Linked DNA regions of Homo sapiens: region 2 is linked to region 1. Evidence: fine-mapped expression QTL. A gene starts in region 1. The other region holds a variant in brackets. All regions are shown on one strand. Distances are from middle to middle.

The links.
Region 2: its variant is fine-mapped to the expression of LDHC in minor salivary gland (GTEx, PIP 0.94).

What each region holds. Positions count from the first base shown.
Region 1 is chr11:18,407,469-18,415,634 of GRCh38, reverse strand. LDHC (lactate dehydrogenase C) reads right to left here and starts at 3,317. Exons shown (of 8, transcript NM_017448.5): 1 at 3,227-3,317; 2 at 2,792-2,926; 3 at 334-451. The coding sequence starts at 2,917. It overlaps LDHA (lactate dehydrogenase A), which reads right to left. Exons shown (of 8, transcript NM_005566.4): 8 at 7,210-8,166.
Region 2 is chr11:17,823,725-17,834,274 of GRCh38, reverse strand. All of the region lies in intron 10 of SERGEF (secretion regulating guanine nucleotide exchange factor), which reads left to right. Among named protein-coding and RNA genes, the nearest start is that of KCNC1, 94 kb to the right of the region's middle. RefSeq lists an enhancer at 551-1,051. The variant A/C (reference allele first, on the strand shown) is at 5,954.

The sequences.
Region 1 (8,166 bases):
CATGGCAAAACTACGTCTCTATTAAAAATACAAAAATTAGCCAGGCGTGGTGGCGCATGCCTGTAATCCCAGCTACACAGGAGACCGAGGCAGGAGAATCACTTGAAGCTGGGAGGTGGAGGTTGCAGTGAGCCAAGATCGCGCCACTGCACTCTAATCTGGGTGACAGAGTGAGACTCTCTCAAAAAACAAAAAAAATTGATCAACTAAATTAAATTATATGGCCCAATGGCATGGTGCTATTTTTAATTTTATATTTATTGACATCTGTTTGGTAAAATTTATTACTTTTTTAAAAAGCTTTGAAAATAACTTTATAAAACTAAAATTAACCTTTTCCAGAAGTAATCTTTGAAGTACTAAAGAAAAGACTGCCATGCTGAAGATCCATCATTTCTCCCTTCAGTTTGTCCAATGCAACATCAACAAGGGCAAGTTCATCAGCCAAATCCTAAAATATACAAAAGTTCTGAATAAAATGTTCCTACTTAAGTTTTAGGAGAATAAGAAGAATTTTCATGTGGCTACTTGATAATTAAAGGAATCTCATATTTTAATAGGGAAAAATGATATAAAAATAGTTTTTCAATGAGCCTGGGTGACCGAAAGTCAAGGTAAGTAAATATTAAGATGTAGCAAAAATTGTTTGACTTCATATAATTGTTAGAACTTTTTAGAGCTGGGTGTTTTTTGTTTTTGTTTTTTTTTGCCATTCAGATAACAGTTTGAAACCAAGGAAAATAAAATGATTTCAAAGGCTTTTATTATATTTAGCCTTTATTTTTGTGTTTTTTGTTTTGTTTTGTTTGAGATGAAGTCTCACTCTGTCGCCCAGGCTGGAGTGCAGTGGCACAATCTCGGGCACTGCAACCTCCGTCTCCCAGGTTCAAGCAATTTTCGTGCTTCAGCCTCCCGAGTAGCTGGGATTACAGGCGCCCGCCACCATGTCCGGCTAATTTTTGTATTTTTAGTACAGACGGGGTTTCACCATATTGGTCAGGCTGGTCTCAAACTCCTAACCTCAAGTGATCTACCCACCTCAGCCTCGCAAAGTCCTGGGATTACAGGCCTGAGCCACTGCGCCCGGCCAGGATTTTATTATATTTAACCTTAACCCTAATTTCTGAGTTGGCTAAAGCTGCTTTTAGTATGCGTCGTTATGGCCCAAACAGGAAGGTAACCACCTCTGATGAACACTTATTGTTTTCATCTGTCTAGTGTCCCTTTTTCTGGTAATAGAATTTCTCTTTTCCATGGGAACCCATTCCATATGTTTCAGTGCAGTACAATTAACATTGGTTTTCCAAGCTTAGGGTAGATGGGCATAAAACCAGACCTAGCCAATTGTTCCATCCTTTCCTTCTGGTCACAGAAATCAGTTCATAAGTGGACATATGGCCCAGGTATAAGAAACAAGCATGTCTATGAAGTTTGAAAATGGAAGACGGAAGATTACATCTCACTTTTCTTTGGAATCATAAGCTCTAAGAATAACATGCAAATCTAAGAACATTAGTAAGGACTGTAGAGTTGGAGAAAAAACAAGAATCTAAGAACAAACTGTACAGCCATCTTTACCACCACATAGAAAGGCTCTACGAATTAAGCCAACAGAGAAAATCTAAACCAAGATATACAAAGACTATGTCTTGATATGTGTGAACTTCAGAATCCGGTAGTACCTGAAGCAGTTTTGCCCTATTTCCAGTTACATGAACAATATTTCGTCTTTTTCTGCTTACCCTAATTTAAACTGGGTTTTTGTCACATGTGACAGAGTACGGAACTATATACAAGGAGTGTATTCATTCAGATTTCAATAGCCAGATTCCAAAAGCGAACAGTAAGGGAAAGAAGTAAAAGTCCCTACTTAAGGCCAGGCGTGGTGGCTCATGCCTGTAATCCCAGCACTTTGGGAGGCTGAGGCAGGCGGATCACGAGGTCAAGAAATCAAGGCCATCCTGGCCAACATGATGAAACCCCGTCTCTACTAAAAATATAAAAATTAGCTGGGCGTGGTGGCACATGCCTGTAGTCCCAGCTACTCAGGAGGCTGAGGCAGGAGAACTGCTTGAACCCGGGAGGCAAAGGTTGCCGGGAGCCGAGATCCTGCCGCTGCACTCCAGCCTGGCAACAGAGCGAGACTCCGTCTCAAAAAAAAAAAAAAAAAAAAAAGAGAGAACAATAAACACTGGGGACTCCAAAAGCAGAGAGGGAGGAGGGCACAAGGGTTAAAAACAATACCTATTGGCAGCCAGGTGTGGTGGCTCATGCCTGTAATCCCAGTACTCTGGGAGGCCGAGGCAGGCGGATCACTTGAGGTCAGGAGTTCGAAACCAGCCTGGCCAACATGGAGAAACCCCATCTCTACTAAAAATATAAAAAATTAGCCAGGCCTGGTGGTGCATGCCTGTGGCCCCAGTTATTCAAGAGGCTGAGGCAGGAGAATCGCTTGATCCCGGGAGGTGGAGGTTGCAGTGGGCCAAGATCGCGCCACTGCACTCCAACCTGGGTAACAGACAAATCCTGTCTCAAAAAAAGAAAAAGAAAAGGAAAGTCAGAAAAAAAAAGAAAGGAAAAGAAAGAAGAAGTTTAAAAAAAAAGGAAAAGAAAGAGAGAAAGAAAAAGGAAGGAAGGAAGGAAGGAAGGGAGGGAGGGAGGGAGGGAGGAAAGGTCAAAGGATACATAATTGCTTTCAAGGGATTAACCTTGCAACCCTGAATACATCGACATATACAACACTCTGAAGTGCTCACTTGATTTTCAGCCACAGGATGGGCTTCTCACTCACCTTCAGTAAGATACTAATAGCACAAGCCATGCCTACGGCACCAGTTCCAACAATAGTAATTTTACACTGGGAGTTTTCATCATCCTCAATTAGCTTCTCAATTAGCTGCTCCTTGACAGTTGACATTTGGAGAACCTGATAGGGATAATGCAATTTCATTGGATTAACCACACTGAACATCTAAGAAACTACCTCTTCAGTTTGCAGAATGTTGGAGCCGGGGATGGGGGGAAGCCAAAGAAAGAATTTCCTGGTCAAAGGATGCGGGGAGGGTAAAGCAAGGCCCAGTCTACCAGGCAATGGGAGGGCTGGGGCACCAGCGGGCTTTTGGATTTCTCCCTGCCCCCAGCCACCACTTTCACCCCAGCACCACACGCTCACAAATGCTTTGCTTGGCGCAATCAGTACAGATGACCCACAGGGACAAAGCACCACCTTTGAAGGAAGGCACAGAAGTGACACCAGAAAAATACACCAACGACAGTTGAGGCGCTAAGCCCGTCGACGGTTGCCCTCCGTGCGACTCGAGACACGCACGTTCCCCCGCTCGGCTCTTATGCGTCAGCACGCAAGCTCCGCCCCCCGCCGGCCCAGGCGCGGGCATGGGGCGTCTTTTCTGCCCTGGAGCGCAGTGTGGGTGGCGGCGGTCCAGATCACCGAAATGCTGATGGGAAGAATTCTAGACTGGCCCAAAGAGTGTGCAAGACGGGGATATCCATGCATTGTTTGCAGGATTTTAAAAAATTATTAACTTCTGTAACTTCAGGACTGAGTGCTGAAATAAAGTTAGAATTTCTCTTGAGAGAACAGAGGGTGGTAATGAAACGCAAAGACGCGAAGGATGCTTTCAATTTACAGCAAGAAATTGTTAATATTTATAACTCATGGCCGGACGCGGTGGCTCACACCTGTAATCCCAGCACTTTGGGAGTCCGAGGCAGGTGGATCACCTGAGGTCAGGAGTTTGAGAACAGCCTGGCCAACATGGCGAAACCCCGTCTCTACTAAAAATATAAAATTAGTCGGGCATGGTGGTGCATGCCTGTAGTCCCAGCTACTTGGGAGGCTGAGGCAGGAGAATCGCTTGAACCCAGGAGGCGGAGGTTGCAGTGAGCCAAGATCGCGCCACTGCACTCCAGACTGGGCAACAAGAGAGAAACTCCATCTCAAAAAAAATTTACATATATATTTTTTTTTTTGTGAGAGAGATATATATCTCACAGAAGGGGACACAACCTACTCCATCTTTTGTAGAGTATTTGCATTTGAACCTTTTTCAAAATCCAAAATATAATTTATTTTTCTTATAATAGCCTGTAGTGTTGTTATTGTTGTTGTTTTTGAGACAGAGTCTCACTCTGTCGCCCAGGCTGGAGTGCAGTGGCACAATCTCAGTTCACTGCAACCTCCGCCGCCTGGGTTCAAGCAATTCTCCTGCCTCAGCCTCCCAAGTAACTGGGACTACAGGCGTGCGCCACCACGCCCGGCTAATTTTTGTATTTTTAGTAGAGATGGGGTTTCACCATGTTGGTCAGAATGGTCTCCAACTCCTGACCTAGTGATCCGCCCTCCCAAAGTGTTGGGATTACAGGCGTGAGCCACCGTGCTGAGCCACCGTGCCCAGCCGCCGGGCAAATTTTTTTGTATTTTTTTGTATTTCACCTTGCTGGCCAGGCTGGTCTCGAACTCTTGACCTCAAGTGATCCACCCACCTCGGCCTCCCAAAGTGCTGGGATTACAGGCGTGAACCACCGCACCCAGTCAGTATTTGTTTTCAATATGGTTCAGATTATGCAATAACCCTGCTTTAAACTCTTCCGTGGCTTTCCATTACAGGTAGAGTAACCCACTTTTACCACAACCTAGATCTTCAAGATTTGGCCTCCTACCCCCACTTCCCATATCATCTCAGGACACTCAATACACTTCCTTCCAACTAGGCTTTGGACAGCTTTTTTGGATCAGGACTTTTTGCTGTTCTTTAAACCAAGAAAGCTCTTTCCCCAGCCCTTCTCAAGGTTAATTCCTCATTTTCAGCTTTGCACATACATACTCTGGCTTTCCTTGACAAATGTCAACTACCATCATTTCCTGTATATCTCTCTCTTATGGCACTTTTCTCAACCAGCAACTAGCCTGAAGCTAGAGGCCTCCTATAGCAGACAGGAGCAGCAACCACTTGGTCCTATACCTCCACAGCAACCTCATTTATCCCCGGGCTGAGAGGGAGATTGCTGGCCTGGATGGACTGGAAATTTAAGCTCTACACCTGCCTCAGGCCCCTGGCGGCCAAGGAAGGTATCAGCTTGGTAGTGGCCAAACTGATGCTAGATGACTAGAACTGGCTCTTCATCCATGCCTGCCCAAATACTCCAAACTTACTTAACATTTTGCTTACTTGATTGCAGTAACTTTAGAACCAAAATTTGTCTTTATTTATTCTTGTACATTGCAACATTTACCAAAGCATAGTAGGTACTCACTAAAGAATTTTTGGGCCAGACATGGTGGCTCACTCCTGCAATCCCAGCACTTTGGGAGGCCGAGGCTTCAGCCCAGGAGTTCAAGACCAGTCTGGCAACATAGGGAGACCCCCATCTCTACCCCCAAAAATAAAAACAAAATAAAATAAAATAATTTTTTTTGAGACAGAGTCTCGCAGTCTCGCCCAGGCTGTAGTACAGTGGTCCGATCTCGGCTCACTGCAAGCTCCGCCTCCCGGGTTCACGCCATTCTCCTGCCTCAGCCTCCCGAGTAGCTGGGACTACAGGCGCCCGCCACCATGCCCAGCTAATTTTTTGTATTTTTAGTAGAGATGGAGTTTCACTATGTTAGCCAGGATGTTTTCAATCTCCTGACCTTGTGATCCACCCGCCTCAGCCTCCCAAAGTGCTGGGATTACAGGCGTGAGCCACCGCACCTGGCCAAAATAAAAAAAAAATTTAAAGAATTTTTAAAGAACATGGCTTTGAAGTACTGAGTTTTATTTTGGCAACATGGGCTTTAGTGGGGGAAAAAAAGGAAGTAGAACCATGTTCTGAGCATCACATTTGCTTCTACACTAACTGGCAACTTCTGTGAGATGGGGATAAGGCCTGCTTAATTTAGTTCCCAAGGTTACTATGGAAAAAAAAAATCAAGTTTCTTTGCAGAGTTGGCCTATTCCTTGCCTGGGGCAGGAAGGTACAAACTGAACCTGGAACATTTATTTTGCCCATAAGTAAGGAAACTTTACAAGATTGCATTTGAAAATTCATGAAAGATTAATAGAATCAGTCTATTTCACTTAAATATTATTTTTCAGTCATGTTGGTATTGACTAATTTATTGTATCAAATAATATAAAATTAATGTAAATTTAAAAATTTTAAAGACTGAAGGTGACTCAAAGTTTACAAAAGGCTACAGGATTAAGTACAGGCCTCTTTTTGTGCTAATTAAAATATTCTTTTTTTTTTTTTTGAAACAGGGTCTCACTCTGTCACCCAGGCTGGAGTACAGTGGTGGGATCTTGGCTCACTGCAACCTTTATCTCCCGGGTTCAAGGGATCCTCCCACCTGAGCCTCCTGTGCAGCTAGGACTACAGGCACCTGCCACCACGCCTAGCTAATTTCTTTTTTGTAGAGACAGGCTTTTGCCATGTTGCCCAGACTGGTCTGGAACTCCTGGGCTCAAGCAATCTACCCACCTTGGCCTCCTAAAGTGCTGGGAATTTGAAGCCACTGCACCCAGCCTATATTCTAAGATTAGATACTGGTGATGGTTGCCAACTATGTGAATACACTAAAAATCCACAGAACGATACGCTTTATAGCTGTGTCCAACCCTTTGAATGTGAGGACTCTTTAGGTGGCAGCAGGTATCCAGATCATGAACTTTTTTGTAGCTCATCAGCTATCATTAGTGTTAATTTCTTTAATTTTTATTGAGACAGTCTCGCTGTGTTGCCCAGGCTCGAGTGCAGTGGTGCCATCTTGGCTCACTTCAATCTCTGCCTCCCCGGTTCAAGCGATCCTCTCACCTCAGCCTCTTGTGCCTCAGCTTCCCAAGTAGCTGGGATTACAAGCATAGGCCACCATACCTGGCAAATCTTTCGATTTTTAGTACAGATGGGGTTTCACCATGTTGGCCATGCTAGTCTTGAACTCCTGATCCACCCGCCTCAGCCTCCCCAAGTGCTGGGATTATAGGTGTCAGCCACCACAGCTGGCACATGTTAGTGTATTTAATGTGTGGCCCAAGACAATTCTTCTTCCAATGTGGCTCAGGGAAAGCAAAAGATTGGACAACCAGGCTTTAAGATAATTCCTTCCCTTAACTAGCTCTCAGGAAAGAATCTTTGGAAAAAGATCCTGGAGTTGGGAATGACAATAATGTTGTTCAGTTAACCTTTACAAGTATGGTTTTCAGGCCTGGATAAGGGTCACAGTTGTATTTTCAGAAAAATGTGCAGAAAACTTGAGTAGACATCCACCAAGGTTACTTGTTTTTTTTGGTTTTGTTTTGTTTTTTTAACAGATGGGGTTTTGTTGTGTTGGCCAGGCTGGTCCCCAATTCCTGGCCTCCAGTGATCAGCCCACCTGGGCTTCCCAAAGTGCTGGGATTATAGGCATGAGCCACTGCACCCTGCCTTAAGATTGTTTTTAATTGTTACCAGCTTCCAGAGGACAAGATCTCAAAAATCTGTGTTCCCTATAGTGACACACTATCATTGCCTATATTCAGTTGGCAAATAAATTTTACATTTACATATAGAATGTTACTTTCCAATTATGATTAGCATTATTATCAAATATATAATACTTTGGGACTTACAATGGAAGTGGTACCAATACAACTCAGTTGACTATTACATCCTCTGCTATTAGTCAATAATATCCCTGTTAGAAAAAATCGTTGCAGGGTTGCCCAAGAATAGCCTAATATTTCCAAATTAATATAATAACTAGCAGCTTTATGACTTTATATCTTAATATAATGAATTAACCAAAGTAGTCACTGTTCAAGGTTTATTGGGGGTTTTAGTTGGTATAACACTTGGATAGTTGGTTGCATTGTTTGTATGTAGATCTTTTTACATTATATGGTAATGTACACTACTGATATAGTTCACAAAATAAGATCCTTTGGAAGAATTATGCACAAGACATGATATTGGATTTATACACTGGATCCCAGGATGTGACTCACTGGGAAAAAATGTTGGACTAGGCATGTTCAGTGAAGGAGCCAGGAAGTTATATAACACACGGTAAACATCCACCTGGCTCAAGGGGCAAATGCAGTACGTACAGCATTGGCAGTGGTGCGTCAGAGGTGGCAGAACTATTTCACACTAACCAGTTGAAGACTACACAAGATTAATACCATCCAG
Region 2 (10,550 bases), 580 kb after region 1:
CGTGGGTGGTAGACAGGCAAAAAAATGAGAGAGCTTGTGCAGGGGAACACCTCTTTTTAAAACCATCAGATCTTATGGGACTTATTCACTATCATGAGAACAGCATGGGAAAGACTTGCCCCCCTGATTCAATTACCTCCCACCAGGTCCTTGTCACAACACGTGGGAATTCAAGATGAGATTTGGATGGGGACACGGAGCTAAACCATATCATTTCACCCTGGCCCCTCCCAAATCTCATGTGTCCTCACATTTCAAAACCAATCATGCCTTCCCAACAGTCCCCCAAAGTCTTAACTCATTTTAGCATTAACTCAGAAGTCCACAGTCCAGAGTCTCATCCGAGACCAGGCAAGTCCCTTCTGCCTATGAGTCTGTAAAATCTAAAGCAAATTAGTTACTTCCTGGATACCATGGGGTTACAGGCATTGGGTAAATACAGTCATTCCAAATGGGAGAAATTGGCCAAAACAAAGGGCTACAGGCCCCATGCAAGTCCAGAATCCAGCGGGGCAGTCAAATCTTAAAGCTCCAAAATGATCTCCTTTGACACTGTGTCTCACATCCAGGTCACTTGATGCAAGAGGTAGGTTCCCATAGTCCTGAGCAGCTCCACCCCTGTGGATTTGCAGGGTACCGCCTCCCTCTTGGTTATTTTCACGGGCTGGGGTTGAGTGTCTGCAGCTTTTCCAAGCACACAGTGCAAGCTGTCATTGGATCCACCATTCTGGGTTCTGGAGGATGGTGGCCGTCTTCTCACAGCTCTACTAGGCAGTGCCCCAGTAGGGACTCTGTGTGGGGAATCCCACCCCACATTTTCCTTCTGCACTGCCCTAGCAGAGGTGCTCTATGAGGACCCCACCCCTACAGCAAACTTCTGCCTGGGCATCCAGGCTTTTCTATACACTTCTGAAATCTAGACGAAGGTTCCCAAACCCCAGTTCTTGACTTCTGTGCACTTGCAAGCTCAACACCATGTGGAAGCTGCCAAGGTTTGAGGTTCGCACCCTCTGAAGCCACGGCCCAAGCTCTACGTTGGCCCCTTTCAGCCAGTGCTGACAAAGAGCACCAAGTCCCTAGGCTGCACACAGCACAGGGACCCTGCTCCCAGCCCACAAAATAATATTTTCCTCCTAGACCTTCTGGCCTATGATGGAAGGGGCTGCTCTGACATGCCCTGGAGACATTTTTCCCCCTTGTCTTGGGGATTAACATTTGGCTCCTCGTTACTTATGCAAATTTCTGCAGCTGGCTTGAATTTCTCCTCAGAAAATGAGATTTTCTTTTGTAGTGCATTGTCAGGCTGGAAAATGTCAGGTGTTTTCCAAACTTTTGTGCTTGGCTTCCCTTATAAAGCTGAATGATTTTAACAACACCCAAGTCACCTCTTGAATGTTTGCTGCTTAGAAATTTCTTCCGCCAGATACCCTAAATCATCTCTTTCCAAAGTTTCACAAATCTCTAGGGCAGGGACAAAATACCGCCAATCTCTTTGTTAAAACATAACAAGAGTCACTTTTGCTCCAGTTCCCAACAAATTCTTCATCTCCATCTGAGACCACCTCAGCCTGGATTTCATGTCCATATCATTATCAGCATTTTGATCATAGCCATCCAGCAAGTCTCCAAGAAGTCTCTAGGGAGTTCCAAACTTTCCCCACATTTTCCTGTCTTCTTCTGAGCCCTCCAAACTGTTCCAACCTCTGCCTGATACCCAGTTCCAAAGTCACTTCCACTTTTTCGGGTATCTTCAGCAGCAGCCCACTCTACTGGTACCAGTTTACTGTATTAGTCCATTTTCACACTGCTAATAAACACATACCTGAAACTGAGCAGTTTACCAAAGAAAGAGGTTAAATTGGACTTACAGTTCCACGTGGCTGGGGAGGCCTCACAATCATGGCGGAAGGCAAGGATGAGCAACTCACATGTTATGTGCATGGTTGCAGGCAAAAAATGAGAGAGCTTGTGCAGGGGAATGCCTCTTTTTAAAACCATCAGATCTCATGAGACTTATTGACTATCATGACAACAGCACGAGAATGATTTGCCCCCATGATTCAGTTACCTCCCACCAGGTCCCTCCCACAACGTATGGGAATTCAAGATGAGAGTTGGATGGGGACACAGCCAAACCATATCGCCATCTCACACATAATGACAGAATCCCAAAAGGGGAAGTTGCTAACCCAAGGTCAGACAACTAGTTAATGATGGTGCTGGAGCTGGGGCCAGAACCAGATCTTCTAGCTTCAGATATAGTGGACTTTTTACACTCTGTGATGAAACCTATGCTCTGGGGAGATTAATGAGGCTTTCTAGGGGAGGTAGTTTGAAGGAGAGGCAAGAGTCAGGGAGAGCCTTGAGATGTTTTTACAGTTCAGATGAAAGGTAATGCACAAGGTCTTTAATTAGGGCTTTGGAAGTGGGCTGATGAAGAAGGGGCTGATGGGAGAGAACATAGAGGTCCAGTCAGCAGGACTTGGATGTGGAAGACAGACAAGAGGGAAACTTACCCTGTCTTCAGTTATTGTTCTTTACTGAATTGTCCATTTGGTAGGCTATCTCAAAGTGGAAAAGAAAGGGTATAGAGCCAAGATAAATACATCAAACACTTCCAGTATTTCCCCAAATGAGCCTCTTTGCAATTGTTGTTGTTGTTCCTCTTCCCTAGAAGGCCTAATTCTTTTCCAGAACCTGGCCTTCCAGCTCTTAAGTCCTCAGAAATGGGATCCATTTGCCAGCTACTATTCTGGCTTCATGATTTTACTCATGGGCTCTTGGAACTGCCCTCATTGTCTGAGTGTGTCCCTGGTTTTGGCTTTGCCACCAGGCCCCATGAAAGTGCCATACATGTGACTTGCCTCCCATCCTGTGACTCTAGGTTTGAAACCAAAGCCCTGAGACAACCTGCAACCCGTGCTGACCTCCAGAATAGGCCAGGCACCCAGCCTGAAGGAGAGTGCTGGACTGGACTTTAATTGTGTAGGGGTCTTGCCCCAGGTCTGTAGACCACTTGCATCAGAATCACCTGGGGAATATTAAAATGTGGGTTTCTGGGCTCTATCTCATCCTGCTGAATCAGAATCTCTGGAGGTAGGTGACAGGAACTTGTAGTTTTGACAAGTGCACCAAGTGATTTTTATTTACCTAAAGTTTGATTCTGCCTTAGATAGTTTTTTTTCCTGGACCTCAGTTTCCTTGTTTTAAAATAGGAAAATTATATATTCAGTTTACCGTGAAAATAGAAAAGTACTTTGGGAAGATGCTAAAAGTTTATACATATTTACTTATCACATATTATTAAGTTTACAGTCTTGAGATAAAGAAAATTTGAAATATTTCTTAGACTGAAATACACTGAAAACCAGTAAATGGTCTGAGTACTCACACTTAGAAAATGTATGCTTACTAAGTGATACGGTTTGAATGTTTGTCCCCTCCAAAATTCATGTTAAAACTTGGTCATTATAACAGCATTAAGAGGTGGGACGTGTAAGAGGTGTTTAGGTCTGCCCTTATGAATGGACTAATGCTGTTATGGAGGGAGTCGGTTCATCCTGACTTACTCTTGCATGTACATGTGCTCTCTCTCTCTCTCTCTCTCTCTCTCTCTCTCTCTCTCCCTCCCTCTCCCTCCCCCTTTCCCTCTCTCTCTCTCTCTCTCTCTCTCCACCTCTCTCCCTCTCCCCATCTCTCTCCCTCTCTTCCTCTCTCTCTCCCTCTCTCTTCCTCTCTCTCACTCTCTTGCCATCTACCATGTTACGATGCATCAGGAAGGCCCTCACCAGATGCTGGCACTTTGATATTAGACATCTCAGCCTCCAGAACTATAAACCAATAAACGTCTATTATTTATAAATTATCCAGTCTGTGCTATTCTGTTATAGCAGCACAAAATGTACTAAGACACCAAGTGAGTGAATATATGAATGAATAGCTCCAGGAAAGGCAAACCCTGAAGAAAGGTCATTAACTTTTTCTTCAACATCCCCTACTTCATGCATTCAATCAGCATTATTCACTGAGTGCCTAATATGTGCCAGGGCACTATGCCAGGCTGAGAATATAAATAGGATGTGGTCCTTGACCTTAAGGGATTGGAGATCAATGTGAGTGTTCAATACAGTGTGATAAGCACTGGCCCCAGGATGGGTAGAGAGGTGGGTATTAGTGCTTTGGCAACCAGAGCAGAAATCACCTCTATCTGAGCCTGTCAGGAAAGGTGTCACCAAGGAGTTGGCCTTGGAGTATAGGATTGTTCCAAGAAGGAGGAAAGCCCTTTTTACAGTCCTTGTCACTGGCTTCCTTCTTCCATTCCATTAAATTCTGTCATCAATTTCCTCTCCTCCTCCATCAAACTAATCTCAGGAACTCAATGTTTATGTGTTTTTTGTTTTCTTTTTCAACCTACCCAAATCTGCTTTTATACTCAAAACCAACACTTAGGTTTAGTCATAAACACTTGGTCTTAAAACAATGCTTTTTTGAGGATCAGGGTAGTTTACATTGTCACCCCTAAAAGTTTTCATCTGAAATAGTTTTAAGCTCTATTAGGGATTTTGTTTGTAGGTTTACTTTTTCACAGCTGATAGGAGGAGTGTTGCAGTTTGTTGGTTAGTAGTTGTTGGATTTTTTTTTGGGTGGTGTGGGGAGAGGATTGGTGACAACTGGTTTACCCCAGCTCCTGTTATTTTACTAGATAAATAATCACTATTTTGCTTACCCATAAAGAATCAAGGGTTAATTCATGGTCTTCTTTGTGTTTTAAGGTAAAACGATAATGGTTAATGAATCAGACTTTAAAGTGGCATAGCCCTTTACAACTTACAACATGTCTTGACTGTTCATGTTCTTCTTTTCTGGTCAAAAGGTGGTCCACAAACCAGAGGCAGGGAGGGAGACGCTAATTAGAAATGGAGAACCTCAGGTACTACCTAAGACCTGCTGAATCGGAATCTGCACTTTAGCAGTATTCCCTGGTAATTTTTATGCACAATAAAGTTTGCAAGAGACTATAAAGTTAGTGGTTTGTCCGATTTATTGATTAGGACATTGAAGTCTGGAGAGATTAGGGAACTTACCCAAGGTCACGTAACAAGTAGCAGAGCCAGGCCTCAAGCCCTGGTCTATCTGATTCCAGTTCAGCACTTTGTCACTGTCCTACTAGGTTTCTTTGTGCCATATTAACTGGAAAACACTTCCTCTGTGATTGATTCATGGTTGTGAAGAAGGAAGAAAGTAACAATTTTTCAAAGTATAAATGTATCTTCTTGGGAGTTGCAAGGGACTAGAAGAGTTAACGGGGAGCTCACAGGCTGAACCCTGACTTTATGCCAGACACTTGGACAATTATACACAGGAAGCCTTGTTCCCATTTTACGGATGGTAAGAACCCTCAGTATTTTCCTGACCTTGATGAGCCTGTAGGGACTCTCGGGGAAGCAGGGGTTGAATGTCGTATTTAAAGCTCAGGCACTAGGACTTTCTGGGTTGGAGGTGAAGGAATCAGATGTTGGACATTTCTTTTCATCCTTAAAATAAGATTCTCTTCTGGTATGAGGCTTTGACTAATCAGGTTGGGTGGCTGCCCACTTCTTCTGGAGTCAGGAACTTAGGCTTTGGCCACCAGGAACTCCTCTTGATTTATGAACAACTCTGTCTTGTAGAGTAAAAGCGGTTTTCCCAAAGAGGAAAAAATAGCTTAAAAGAAGGCCTTGAAGAATCAAGATGACAAAATGTATTATTTATAAGGACCTAAAATAAGTGCCAGATCCTCCACTTGAAGTGAGCAGGCGACAGCCGTGCGCTGTGTGGAGTAGAGCCCAGCTGACTCCAGCTGGATCCACACGGCAGGGCTGGTCAGCCACAGCTCTGCTCACTATTCCAAGGCTCTTCTCGGAAAGACTCCTGCTGCCGGTGCAGGCCATCTGTGGAGCTCACATGAATGCGT[A/C]CCGGCTTACAAGCTTAAAGAGAAAATTCTTGAAGGAAGCTGGAGGAAATGCAGTGAGAATCTGTGGATTGGTAGAAAGAGGCCACAAACACACACTCATACCTGTAACACACACGCATGTAAGATTACATCAACTTCCCGACTTACTCACTCAAGGATACAGACACGTTTTGAGAGTGAGGAGTCCAGGCAGCACACAGTAGATACGGGGTATCTCAACTCCGCCTTCACTAGCCCCTAGCTCCCTAGTGGAACTTGCAGCTGCAGGTAACACCATCCATGCAGAATAGAGTTCTGTTGCATCCAGGAATCAGCCCCTTCTTGCTGCATCACAGGCCTTTTTCACTCAAGGCTTGTCTCATCATTCTTGAAGAACTTAGTGCTGCTATGTTTTCCTTTAAGAGAATGTTCACAAACATTTCTTATACAAAAAGCTCTTCCACTTTTTGAAGCAAACTAATGGTCAGCAAGTCTACATCTTTATCCAGTGGGGAAAAATACAGATTCAGTGTCTAGGAGTCTCTGATCAATAGCCAGCATTGCAGAAAACCCATTTCCTTGCCACTCATCCTTTCACTCTGGCCTAATACCTTTGTTATCTGGAAGTTCGTGATACTGAGTTAGACCTGAGGATCATTTCCCAAATCTGTTTTTCTGGAGGGCAAGATTCAGTGATGCGGCGAGAGGTAACTGAAGAGTAGGAGGTGATGCCGAGGGATTTCTGAGGGCACCCAAGGCAAGTAGGAGATTGTGCTGCAGCTCCAGAACTGTTACAAGTCTTACCAACAGAACAATAGGCTAGGATTTGAACATACACTGCAGATTTCAGAGCCTTCTCACCGAACTCTAATTATTCCTGTGTCATTGTCTTTCTCTTCCTCTTCAAAATTTCTCTTCTGGGATATGGTGACTACACTGTGGGGAGAAATGCTTTTAGTAGCTCTTTCTGTATTTGGAGCTTACTTTGTGTTCTCTGTTGGCTGATGGCTCCCTCCCCAGCCATAGGAGCTGATTATGATCCAGCGGCCCTGATGCAGTCCCCTGGCAGCATCAACCTGGTTTTGCCTCTGGTTCTGATCTCAAGGACCCTCCAGTTTCCTCTTATCATAATGGTTGCCCCTAGAGGGCAGGATTCAATAGGCTGAGAGGTTTACCTACATGCCCTGGCAGTACAGGGAGCCTTCAAGAAGATGGATATCTGACCTTTCTACCCCCTACATCCCAATTCAGAATAATAAAATCTCAGGCTTGAGATAAATTTTCGGCATTTTAAAATCCAGGCATCTATTTAATATTTGAACGAGAGGCGGCGTGGTATAGAAGAAAGAACACTGGCTGAATTCAAATCCCATCTTCACCACTTTCTAGCTGTGTGATCCTTATAAGCAAGGAATGCCTTGCAGGGCCCTGCTGGAGAATAAAGATAATCTAGGTAAAGTCCTGACATATATGATATGCTTCATAAGTAGTAAGTACCATTGTCCTGTAAACCAGAGCTTTCAAACTTTTTCCTTCAGAACACTTAAATTCTTTCACATATTCTCTATCATATATGATGTTTAGATTCCTCACAGCCCTGGTTACTTTATTTGTTATTATTATTACTATTGTTACTTTTATTGTAAAATATATATGACATAAATTTATTATTTTAACCATTTTAAGCATGCAGTCTAGTGGCATTAAATACATTCACATTGTTGTGAAACCATTATTACCATCCATCTCCAGAACATTTTTATTCTCCCATACTGAAATGTTGTACCTATTAAACAGTAACTCCCACTCCCCATCCGTGCAGCCTGGGCACTCTATTTTGAATAGCATGCTCCAAATTCCTCAGTGTCTTTCTTCCCATTGCAAATGGAGGTTAAAAAGAGCCTCTTGGAAGGGTTTGAGTTCTTCAAACTCCCACTGGGGAGCCCGAGAATTAAAAGTCTATACCAGTTGCGGCAAACTTTTGGGATTGCAGATGGTTACAAAATTAGTGTCAATATAGCTGCTTTGCATGGAGTGGATCTGGCAAAGAGGCTTCTAAGCACTGATACATTCCTTTCAGAAATATCAAAGGATATGGCTTGGCATAGCTTTGGGGAGAAACCAACAGTTTTCGAATTCTTGAATAGCATCTACCTTATGGTGAAGATTAAATGATATAATTCATGTCAAGTGTATAATACAGTGCTTGGCACAGATCAGGCCCTTATATGTAGGCTTTTGTTACCATAATTGCACTATGGCAGAGATTACATATATGTTTTGGTAGTTAATTCCCATGATAGGTAGACACCATTTTCATCTTATCTGAGGAAACTGAGTCTCTGGGCTGCTAAAGCCCCCAAAATTACAGAGCTAGTAAGTTATAGAGTAGCAGAGCTGGGATTCAAACCCATACTCTTTCTCTTATAAGATGCTGCCTGTTGTGATACACCAAGAAAGGAACCCTGTGAGTGAGGTGTACTGACTTCATCTTGATGTTTCATCTTTCTGTATACCCTGGCCCTTTTCTAGGGTCATACCATCTTGCTGTTTCTTATTCTTAAAATCATACACCTAATGTCCAAGCTTCAGAGCTTTCTGTATTTACCAGTCCCCATTCTCTCTGTGAGTGAAGTGATCTCTCACAGTCTTCCATAAGCTCTAAAGTAGGAAACCAAAAGCATGTGTGCAAACCATGGAACTCTCTGGCTTTATTCAATGAGTATCTAAGAGCTAATGAACTGCACATAGAATTTAGAGGAACGTTGACTAGGATTTGATCAGAAAATGGTACTTTCCAGGACATTCAGGGCACCCACAAACACTAGGTAGAGTTTGTTCAGAAAAGAAAATGCTTACATTTGACTTCTGTGAGTGATTGGGATTCATTTTCCTTTCAGAAAACAAGAACCAAGTCACGCTCTCTTGCTCTTTCATGGTTGCTAGGAAGCTAAAGCCAACCTGGATGCTCAATTTCGGCATGTATATAAGCTCCTAGGGCTGGCATTTGGATACGCCTCCTTTCCATGGTTTTGAATTTCCGCTTGTATTTTATTTACTGTATTATAGGAATACCCTTTCAAAGGAGATGAGCTTAGAGTAAGTAAATCAATAAAAACTATAAGCCCCTAGAGGTCAAGGACCATTTTCATTTACTTTAGTGTCCCCAGCACATAACTCAGTATCTGGCGTATAGTAGATGCTCAGTAAATGTTTGTCAGTTGAATGGATGAAAGTGATTAATGAATCAGCATTCAAAATGACTTAAGAATGCCATCTCTGGTACCTTCCTTTGGACTTTCAGATAACAAGGCCATCAAGGTGGAAGCTTTAGAAGGTGTTCCTTGGATTTTGGAGGTCTATCATTAAGAAAGTGTGTGCACATTGCTAGACATCGGAAATAATATTGGCTTAGACAAGACAGAAGCATTTTCTCTCACTGTTATGGACTGAATTGTTTCTCCCCAAAATTCGTAGATTAAATCCCTAACCCCCAATGTGACTGTATTTGGAGATAAGGTATTTAAGGAGGTAATGAAGGTTAAGTGAGGTCTTAAGGATGGAGCCCTAATCTAATATGACATATCATTATGAGATGCAGAAGAGACACTAGGAATTGCTCTCCCTTTACATGCAGAGGAAAGGCCATGTGAGGACACAGCAAGAAGGCAGCCATCTGCAGGCCAGGGAGAGACTTGCTAGAAACCAACTCTGATGGCACCTTGATTGTAGACGTCTAGCTTCTAGAACTGTGAGAAAATTAATTTCTGTTGTTTCAGCTACCCAGTCTGTGGTATTTTTTGTTATGGCAGCCCAAGCAGACTAATACATTCACGCATGACAGGTCTGATGATATCCCCCCACAAGATTGCTATAATAGTTCTACAGATATCAAGGGCCCTAATTATTTCTATCTCTCTGTTTCACTATCCTTAACATAGGCCTTTGTCTTCAAGATTTTCTCAAGGTCCAAGATGGCTGCTAGCAATATTCAGCCAGATAGAAGGGAGAAAGGACAAAGAGAGGCCTTTTTTTTTTTTTTGAGACGGTGTCTCGCTCTGTCACCCAGGCTGGAGTGCAGTGGTGCGATCTTGGCTCACTGCAAGCTCCGCCTCCTGGGTTCACGCCATTCTCCTGCCTCAGCCTCCTGAGTAGCTAGGACTACAGGCGCCCGCCACCACGCCCGGCTAATTTTTTGTATTTTTAGTAGAGACGGGGTTTCACCGTGTTAGCCAGGATGGTCTCAATCTCCTGATGTCGTGATCCGCCCGCCTCGGCCTCCCAAAGTGCTGGGATTACAGGCATGAGCCACCGCGCCCGGCCAAAAAGAGGCCCTTTTAAGGCACTTTCCCTGAAGTGGTACCAAGCAATGTCAACTAAAAACTGGCCAGAGCCTAGTTACATAGCCAAACCTGTCATGAGGGCTGGGAAGTGAGACTTTTAGCTGGGCATATGTTTATCCTGAATAAAATTTGAAGTCTGTTACCAGGAAAGAAGAGGAGAATGGATAATAAGTAGGTAACCAGCAATCTATGCCTCAAAGAGCAGGAGAATTGTGGGGAATAAAGGAAGCTGGAAGTCAGCATCTCACTCATAAAACAGTCCCACTTCTCAGCAC